Regions from separate parts of the Homo sapiens genome. Here region 1 is linked to region 2. A link means that fine-mapping ties the variant in region 2 to the expression of a gene that starts in the linked region. Tissue or cell type: pancreas. Region 2 holds a variant in brackets; the other region holds the start of a gene. All regions are shown on one strand. Distances are from middle to middle.

Evidence for each region. PIP is the estimated chance that this variant, and not a neighbour inherited with it, causes the effect.
Region 1: it holds the start of WDR45B, and the variant in region 2 is fine-mapped to the expression of WDR45B in pancreas (GTEx, PIP above 0.99).

The regions. Positions count from the first base shown.
Region 1 is chr17:82,646,450-82,651,449 of GRCh38, forward strand. WDR45B (WD repeat domain 45B) reads right to left here and starts at 1,995. Exons shown (of 10, transcript NM_019613.4): 1 at 1,825-1,995. The coding sequence starts at 1,891. RefSeq lists silencers at 1,448-1,497, 1,508-1,557, 2,158-2,227 and enhancers at 1,640-2,139, 2,518-2,587.
Region 2 is chr17:82,621,340-82,626,339 of GRCh38, forward strand. It overlaps WDR45B (WD repeat domain 45B), which reads right to left. Exons shown (of 10, transcript NM_019613.4): 5 at 4,050-4,144; 6 at 270-460. Among named protein-coding and RNA genes, the nearest start is that of WDR45B, 25 kb to the right of the region's middle. The variant C/T (reference allele first, on the strand shown) is at 1,908.

The sequences.
Region 1 (5,000 bases), 25 kb after region 2:
GCACTCCAGCCTGGGCAACAAGAGCGAAAACTCCGTCTCAAAAAAAAAAAAAAAAAAAAAAAACCCAAAACAAAAAAACAGCTAGAAACAAAAATAAGTACAAAAATAAAGTACAGAAGTAGGCAAAACTAATCTATGATGTCACAAGTCAGGTAGGGAGCATTTATTGGAATCAAGCGTGGCCAGGTATATTCAATTTCTTAATTGTTAGTGACAGGTGTGTAGTTTGGAAAATTCATCACCTGAACACTTATGATATATCCACCCTTCTACAGGTATAGCACACTTCACTAAAAAGAAGGCATTACAAACACCAGATGGTTGGAAACCACCCTCTGAGAAGGCTAGGCATCTCCCTTACCATCTCAGCAAAACTTTCTTCCGGAGAAACCCCAGCACACAACCCTGGGGAAGCTGGCAGCGCCCAGGAAGCCTGACTGGTCCCAGGGCATCAGGCATCAAAATCACTGAGAGGGAGTTCTTTCAAATATGTGTAATCCGGCCGGGCGCAGTGGCTCACGCCTGTAATCCCAGCACTTTGGGAGGCCGAGGCGGGTGGATCACCTGAGGTCAGATTGAGACCAGCCTGGCCAACATGGTGAAACCCCGTCTCTACTAAAAATACAAAAAGTAGCCGGGCGTGGAGGCAGGCGCCTGTAATCCCAGCTACTCAGGAGCCTGAGGCAGGAGAATGGCGTGAACCCGGGAGGAGGAGGTTGCAGTGAGTCGAGATCGCACCAGGCTGGGCGACAGAATGAGACTCCGTCTCAAAATGAAATAAATAAATAAATAAAATTGTCTTCACATATACGGGATCATACAGCACCTGCCTGGATTCTCTTCAAAAACAAAACTTCCAAAGCCAACATGTAAAGCCTCGCAGAAGCCTGTCTCGGAATAACGGACATTCCTTTTCCTCCCCATCAGGACCTTTGGGAAGCGCGCCCTTCAAATGGGAGGTGAGGAGGCAACCATCCGAATCCAGGTCCCGCCCGCCTCCCGCGGGAATCCGACCGCGCCGCCCCGGCCGCATCCCCCGCAGCTCCGAAGCACCTGCGGGGAAGGAGGTCACCTTCCCTGGGCGCTTTAAATCATCCAGTGCTTACACCTGGATTCCGACATGGGAAAAGAAGTAAGATTTCCCTCAAAGGCCTCCCTTAAGTCCTTTGACTCCACCAAACACGAAGAAAAATCCCGGGGAGTGGGGGTGGGGAGAGTGACATTTTCCGATGGAAACCGACGGGAAAGGTGAGACCTGCACCCCACCCGCGCCACTCGCCACCAGAGGCGTCGGAGACGCCGGCTCCGCGGCTCCAGTAAACCCAAGCGAAGTCAGCTCAGCCACGGGCTACCTACTAAAGACCCTGAAAGGAACAGGGGGCAAAACGGGGTTCTGGGCAGGGCGTCAATCACGCTGTGGGGAAAATCCCGATAACCGTGGAGCCCGCAGGGAGCCAGGGAACCCGAGTGGGCGTGGCGCGCGGGGAGGGGCGTCCGCGCAGGAGGCTGGGGTTCTGTGCCGTCTCCCACCGACCTCGACCTCGGCCCGGGACGGCCGGCTGGGAGCGGTCACAACCCGGGGGGTGGGGGAGCGCGAAAGGCCAGGAAGGTGGGAGCCGGTTCGGGCCTGGTCCGGACCCCGGCTCGGGCTGGGAGCAGCGGCGAGGGCCGGGGCCGGGGGCTTCGGAGGGGAGCTCGGGCGGGGCCGGGGTCCCGGGTGGAAGGCCTGGCCGGAAAGGGGCGCCCAGGAGAGGCCTGAGAGCCGGGGACCCCGGGCTGCGGGAAGGCCCGGCCGGGCAAGGCGACAGGGCCGCGCCTCCTCACCGTGGTCCTGGTTGAAGCCGGCGTAGAGCAGCCCGTTGCCGTGAGGGTTACACGGCAGGAGGTTCATGGCGCCGCCGTGCTGGGTCGCCGCTCCTCAGCGCTGCATGCCTCTCGCTGGGGACGGCGGCCTGGTCCCTTCGGGCCGGCGCTGAGGCCGCCGCGGCCGGAAGTGCCGGACGTACGTGCGTGCGTGCTGGATGTGCGTGTGTGCTGGACGTGCGTGCGTGCGTGCTGGACGTCCGTGCGCGCGCCCGCGCCCCACCAGGGAGCCTATGGAGCGCCGAGCGCATCTAACCGAAGCGAGGCGAGACGAGGCGAGGCAGGGCGGGGAGGGGCGGGGCGGGGCGAGGCGAGGCGAGGCGAGGAAAGGCGGGGAGAGGCAGGGCGGGCGGGGCGGGATGAGGCGGGGAGAGGCAGGGCGGGCGGGGCGGGATGAGGCGGGGAGAGGCGGAGCGAGGCGGGGCGGGGAGGAGGGGGCGGGGCGGGGCGGGGCGAGGCGAGGAAAGGCGGGGAGAGGCAGGGCGGGCGGGGCGGGGCGGAGGCGGGGAGGGGCGGAGCGAGGCGGGGCGGGGAGGAGGGGGAGGGGCGGGGCGGGGAGGGGCCAGGCGGGAGCGCAGAGCACGTTCGCGGGAGGGTCTGGCCTTGTCATGCGCGGGGTCGCCGCGGGAAGGAGGATGGCCCGTTGAGGGCTTGGCACGGATACCTGACGGTCGGAGGAAGGGGGGAGAGCCGGTAAAGGAGGCTGACCCAAAACTGAGGCCCGGTGCATCATCCCTCATGAGAGGCAAGCCCAGAAGCGCCACAATACTAGGGTCCCCCTTCAGGAGACAGAGACCCCCAGGACACAGAGGGCCCCCAAGTCACTCAGCCCCCCCAGGACACGCAGCTCCTGCAGGACGCAGAGGGTGCCCAAGACACACAGTCCCCAGGACAGAGACCCCCCAGGACACAGAGGACCCCCAAGACACGCAGTCTCCAGGACACAGAGGTCCCCCCAGGACACACAGTGCCCCCAGGACACAGAGGTCCCCCAGGACACAGCACTCCCAGGACACACAGCCCCCCCGGGACACAGAAACCCCCCCAGGACACAGCCCCCCTAAGACACACAGCCTCCCCCAGTACACAGAGTCCTTTCCAGGGCACATATTCCCCCAGAAGACACAGAGGTCCCCCTAAGACACACAGCCCCCCCAGGACACACAGACCGCCAGGTCACAGAGACCTTCCCAGGACACAGGGACCTTCCCAGGACACATAGCCCCCCAGAGGACACACAGCCCCCCCACGACACAGCCCATAGAGGACACAACCCCTTAGTACCCCACCTAAAGGACAGGTGGCCCTCACACAGCACAGCCCCCGCAGGACTCCGGGACCCTCAGGTCACATTGCTCACAGGGCACAGTTCTCAACTCTTAGGGTCAGGCTGCTGGGGGCATCCTGGTCACAGAGCTTTGTCCCTGGGCTTGGCTCATGCAGTGGATGGCTGTGGAGGCCTGAGTGCTGGCCCTCGTGTCTCTTGCCCAGGGAGTCCTCTCCACTCCCCCTCCTCACTTTCCTGTCCCCTCCTAGGCTCTCCCTGTTCCCTGCAGCACACCTGATCTCCTAGGAGGTCCTGACACTGTCCCCTCGCAGCCACCTGCCTCCACCCCGTCTGTCATCCTCATCCCACCCTCGCCACTTGCCTGAGCTGGTGCTGACCTCTTAGCCATGGGGAGGAAGGAGCTGGACTGTAAGCTGAGATCACTGGCCCACTCGGGCCAGGCGGTCTCCGCATCGTGGGCATTGAACACCTCGATTCCCATACGAGAGGGGCTCCTCCCTGAGAGCGACCAGAAGCCTTCCGATGGCGGAGCGAGTTGGGCCGCCCCGGCTGTGACTAGGGCTCGGGGGCCCAGGTCCAAATCACAGAGCTGGGGCGAGACCTAAGTGCGGTCCAGGGGCTCAGCACCCTCTTCCCTGAAGGGCACTGGGTTCTCCTCTGTGCACACGTACCGGTACCTGCTGTGAGAAGTGTCACGTGGGGGAAGGAGAGAGGCGTGGGTAAGGGACATTTCCCTTCATTTCTCTGCTTGCCACCCTTGGGGCCTCCTTCAGTTCACATTTTACTCAGTCTCCCGGTGGCTGTACAGCCGGGGGCGGGGGCATGTGTGGACATCCACACACAGCGCTGGTTGTATCCTAACCAGGAAACTCAAAGCAGCCTTGCCCACCACAGTGCGTTGAATGGTGACCCTCTAAAGATGTGTCCTGGGGGGCTGAGGAGGGAGGATGGCTTGAGCCCAGGAGATTGAGGCTGAGGCTGCACTGAACTGAGATTGTGCCACTACACTCCAGCCTGGGCAACACAGCAAGACTCTGTCGCAAAAAAAAAAAAAAAAAAAGATAGGTCCACCCAGAACCTGAGAATAGGGGCTTCTTTAGGTAAAGAATCATTGCAGAAGTAATTAAGGATCTCGAGATAAGATCATCCTGGATTTGGGGTGGGCCTTAAAGCTGGTGACCGGCACCCTTGGAGGAGACAGGAATGGAGGAGATACAGGGGACAGCAGCCAGTGGGACTGGAGTGCTCAGCCCTAAGTCAGCAAGTGCAGGAATCGTGGGGTCACCAGGAGCCGGGAGAGGCATGAACGGTTCTTCCCCAGAGCCTCCCAGCCTGGGAAGGAACACAGGCTGTTGTCCAAGCCACCAGCCTGTGGGGCTTTGTTCCAGCAGCTCCAGGAATCCCGCCGTCCACTGATAGCTCAGAGGTCTCCACGTGGAAGACCTGAAGTGTGACTTGGAGTGAGGGACACGGCTCATCTCGCCCACCCTTCTCCAAGGCAGGCAGAAAGCAGAGTCTCACCTCTGGGGGTGGAGAGAATAGAAATTATACACACACACACACACACACACGCATATATATGTATTTATATATATATGTATATATCTCCTGGGCTCAGGAGATCCTCCCACCTCAGCCTCCTGAGTAGCTGCAACTACAGGTACACACCACTATGCCAGCTTAATTTTTTGTATTTTTAGTGGAGACAGGGTTTCATCATGTTGCCCAGGCTGGTCTTGAACTCCTAGGCTCAAAGGATATGCCTGCCTCAGCCTCCCAAAGTGCTGGGATTACAGGCGTGAGCCGCTGTACCTGGCCTAACGATGTATTGTTTAAAGATACAACATAT
Region 2 (5,000 bases):
ACTGCCCCTGGCCCTGTTTCTTTGGCTTATCATATTTTACAAGACACTGCTTTGTAAATAATTAGAAATAAAACCAGTCCCTGGGCACAAGACGACCTGTGAAGACTTCAACCTGTCTGATGACATGACCAGCCAGGTCCACAGGCCCCTGAGGGGCTCCAGGTTGGGGCAGGCCCACTGCCTTTTGAGTCTTGATACAGGGAATGGCCATTTTGCTGAGCCTGCTGCTCCAGGAGGCACAACACCAACAAGGTGAGTGGCACACTTACTTTCTCGGATGCAGTTGCAATTCTTGTTCCCTGCAGGTTGAGTGCAATGCAGCTCAGGACACCCTCGTGTGCAGGAATGTCCACGGGTGGCTTCTCCGTGCTGGCCAGGTCCACAAGCTGCACATGGCCCGTGTGCGTGCCCGGAAAGGCCAGGAGGGAGTTGTTACTATTGGGACAAAGGACACAGAGGCCTGCGTGGAGACAGAGGACACCAATCAAGAACTGCCTTTGATTTCTCACAGCCAAAGTCCACTTTCTGCCCCCAAAGTTCTCCGAAAAAATAGATGTATATCATTTATAAATATCAGAACCACAAATTCAATTTAAAGATTTTTCATTGTAAATAAAGAGTATGAGAGGGCTAAGCAAAGCTACCTCGCATGAGACCTCCTCATAATCAAGACATCTGCTGAACAACTTTACCAACTGTCCATCCATCATGGTACGCGCTACCGAAAATGCAATGCAAAATTAACGACTTTACCAACTGTCCGTCCGTCAGGGTACACGCCACCGAAAATGCAATGCAAAATTATAAAATTTAAAAGCTGCTCCATCAGCAACAGCGTAAAAATATTAAAAAACGGAGGAATAAGTTAACAGATGTACAAGACCTATCCATGGACTGTAACATCTTGCAAAGGAAGACCACAGAAGATCTGAGAGAGAGCTGGTCTTGTGATCGTGGGCTGGAAGATTGGCTATTACTATCTAACTCATCTACAGTCAGTGTGATCACAGCTAACCTCTCAGAAAGGGTTCTTGAAGAAAGACAAGCTGATACTAAGAATTATAAGGAAAAATAAAGGCACTGGAACAGCCCAAATTTTTTATTTTTTTGAGACGGAGCCTGGCCCTGTCACCCAGGCTGGAGTGTACAGTGGCGTGATCTCGGCTCACTGCAAGCTCCGCCTCCCAGGTTCACGCCGTTCTCCTGCCTCAGCCTCCCGAGTAGCTGGGACTACAGCCACCTGCCACCATGTCCAGCTAATTTTTTGTATTTTTAGTAGAGATGGGATTTCACCATATTAGCCAGGATGGTCTCAATCTCCTGACCTTGTGATCCACCTGCCTTGGCCTCCCACAGTGCTGCGATTACAGGCATGACCAAAAATTTTTTTTTTTTTTGTAAAGTAAGAAGATTGCAAGACTTATATTACCTAATTTCAGATTTACTTTAAACCTCTTATCAAGGCAGGATGGTACTGGGATAAAGACAGAAACACAGATCAATGGAAGAGAACAAAAAGTCCAGAAAAAAAACCTTGTATTTATTTAATCAAAACAAAGGTACCAAGCTTAGATATCCACATAGAACAGAAAGGAACCCAGGCGTGTGCCTCACTCTGAATACAAAATGTACTTGAAATGGATCGAAGATTTAACTTTAGATGAAAAGCTACCAAATGTGTAGAAGAAAACATAAAAGAAATCTTTTAGCAATACTTGCAAAAGTGTGCCAGGGAAAAGGCTAAATCTACAACATATAAAGAATTCTTACGGCCGGGCACAGTGGCTCACGCCTGTAATCCCAGCACTTTGGGAGGCCAAGGAAGGCGGATCACCTGAGGTCAGGAGTTTGAGACCAGCCAACATAATGAAACCCCGTCTCTACTAAAAATACAGAAATTATCCAGG[C/T]GTGGTGGCGGGTGCCTGTAATCCCAGCTACTTGGGGGACTGAGGCAGGAGAATCGCTTGAACCCAGGAGGCGGAGGTTGCAGTAAGCTGAGATCGCACCACTGCACTCCAGCCTGGGCAACAGAGCGAGACTCTATCTCCAAAAAAAAAAAAAAAACAAACAAAAAAAATGGGGCTGGGCGCGGTGGCTCACGCCTGTAATCCCAGCACTTTGGGAGGCCGAGGCAGGTGGATCACGAGGTCAGGAGATCAAGACCAGCCTGGCCAACATGGTAAAACCCCGTCTCTACTAAAAATACAAAAATTAGCCAGGCATGGTGGTGTGCCTGTAGTCCCAGCTACTCAGGAGGCTGAGGTGGGAGAACTGCTTGAACCTGGGAGGCAGAGGCTGCAGTGAGCCGAGATCATGCCACTGCACTCCAGCTTGGGCAACAGAGGAAGACCCCATCTCATATTAAAAAAAAAAAAAAAAAATTCTTACATCTCATTATAAGATAAACAACCGGCTAAAAAATGGGCAAAACATCTGGGGCACTTCCCAAAAGATCTCGAAAGGGAAGAACCACAGGGAAAGATGTCGCCACCGCCAGTCCTCAGAGAAATGCAAACCAAAACCACAAGGAGATGCCGTTACCAGTGAGATATCATCACACACGCACGGAACGGCTACAGCTAGAAAGACCGACAATGCTGGAACACTCATAAATCATGGATGAGACGCAAGGGGACACAGCCACTCTGGAAAATAAACGGCCGCATTTTATAGTCAGACACAACCACAACATGGTTGTGACCGGGCAGTCGAACCCTCAGGATCGACCCAAGAGACATGAAACTACCCACACAAAGGCTGCTATGGGAACATGCACGACACTCCTCCTTCCTAATAGCCAAAACACGGCCGAAGGGACCAACAAAGTAACACACATACACACACACAGAGGACAAATACATGTAAAAAAACAAAACCTGAGGGTTGAGTGGGGAGGGGACTGTCCCAAGAAAGTTTTCCAGGAGAAGAGACTGTTCTTTTTTTCTTTAGTCTCACTCTGTCGCCCAGGCGGGAGTGCAGTGGCACAATCTCGGCTCACCGCAAGCTCCGCCTCCCGGGTTCAAGCAATTCTCCTGCCTCAGCCTCCCAAGTAGCTGGGACTATGGGCACCCGCCACCACATCCAGCTAAGTTTTGTATGTTTAGTAGAGATGAGGTTTCACCACGTTGACCAGGATGCTCTCTATCTCCTGACCTCGTGATCCGCCCGCCTTGGCCTCCTAAAGTGCTGGGATTACAGGCGTGAGCCACTGCGCCCGGCCGACTGTTCTGTCTTGACTGTGACGGTGGCTACACAACTGTTTACAATGACGGAAATTTATTGAAGTTTTTTTTTTTTGAGATAGAGTCTTGCTCTATCGCCCAGGCTGGAGTGCAATGGTGTGATCTCGGCTCACTGCGACCTCTACCTCCTGGGTTCAAGTGATTCTCCTGCCTCAGCCTCCCAAGTAGCTGGGACTACAGGTGCCCGCCACCACGCCCGGCTAATTTTTTGTATTTTTAGTAGAGACAGGGTTTCACCGTGTTAGCCAGGATGGTCTTAATCTCCTGACCTTGTGATCCGCCCGCCTCGGCCTCCCAAAGTGCTGGGATTACAGGAGTGAGCCACCGCGCCCGGCCACAAATGGTATTCTTAAAACGAGTCAGTTTTTTGTAAATTTTACCCTAACAAAGCCAGAGGCAAAACCCCCAATATAAAAAGATATGAAGATGGTACAATAAATGACAAAGTCAAACACAATCAATCCTCCAATTCAGAAGACAAGGGAAGGAAAGGCTTGAGTCCAGAACTCAGTGGCTCCCGAAGTGGTGAAAACATAGGTTCCTGGTTCACTGTGGAGGTTCTGAGAGCCCATAGTCACTGGGTGGGAGGGGACAGGGGCCCCCACTCTGTGACTCTGGTCAGAAGGTAGTTTGGGGATGCTGAGCTGTGGGTCCTGGAAGGTCCATCTCCTCTGGAGGCCCCTCTGTGCTCAGGATTGCTCTCGCCAAGCACTTTGCTCAGAGACCTGCTTGGAGAAGGGAGTGCCCAGCACAGGCATCTCCATGTGGACCCATTTCCCATCGCCACCCGTCTGCTCAATCTCTCACCTTTGGGGTTATAGCAGGTTTCGAAGACGTGCAACTGATGGGGATTGTGTGTGAATGTGAACACCTTAATCATGGAGTCCAAAACCACCACAATTCTGGAAAGAAAAACATGATCAGAGTTGCTTTCCTCAAGAGTCAAACCCAAACATTTTATGCTCCTGTTCTTATCATACTGAAACTGAGAAACACTGAAAATACCACACAGAAAAGGAGTGTTCCTGAAGAAAAAGCTCTGGAGGCAGGTAGCCAGCGCCAGGCCTGGAGCTCGGCGAGTGCACGTGGGCTGGCTCTGCTGAGGGAGTGCTTCTCGCCTGGGTGAAGGTCAGCCTAAGAGACGTCTCTGAGGTTCAGAGAGACATCATCAAACACTCCATCTAGGTTCAGAACCGAGCAAAACAGACAGAAGTGATATTTTTATGCTACTGTGTCTGGAAAAAATAAGAAAAGTCTGAAAGTAGAATATCCTCGATCTGGCTCAAGCGTTTGCATTATTATTATTATTACTTTTTTTTTATAGATGGAGTCTCACTCTGTCGCTCAGGCTGGAGTGCAGTGGCACAACCTCAGCTCACTGCAACCTCCACCTCCAGTTCAAGCGATTCTCCTGCCTCAGCCTCCTGAGTAGGTGGGATTACAGGCGTGCACCACCATGCCCAGCTAATTTTTGTATTTTTAGTAGAGATGGGGTTTCACTAGGTTGGCCAGGCTGGTCTCTAACTCCTGACCTTGTGATCCGCCTGCCTCAGCCTCCCAAAGTGCTGGGATTACAGGCATGAGCCACGGTGCCCGGCCACATTTGCATTACTAAGGGCCTTTAAATATTGACGTTATTAAAATGACAAACCCACACAAAAATGCAGGAAAGTTGGCCGGGCGCAGTGGCTCACACCTGTAATCCCAGCACTTTGGGAGGCTGAGGCGGGTGGATCATGAGGTCAAGGGATCAAGACC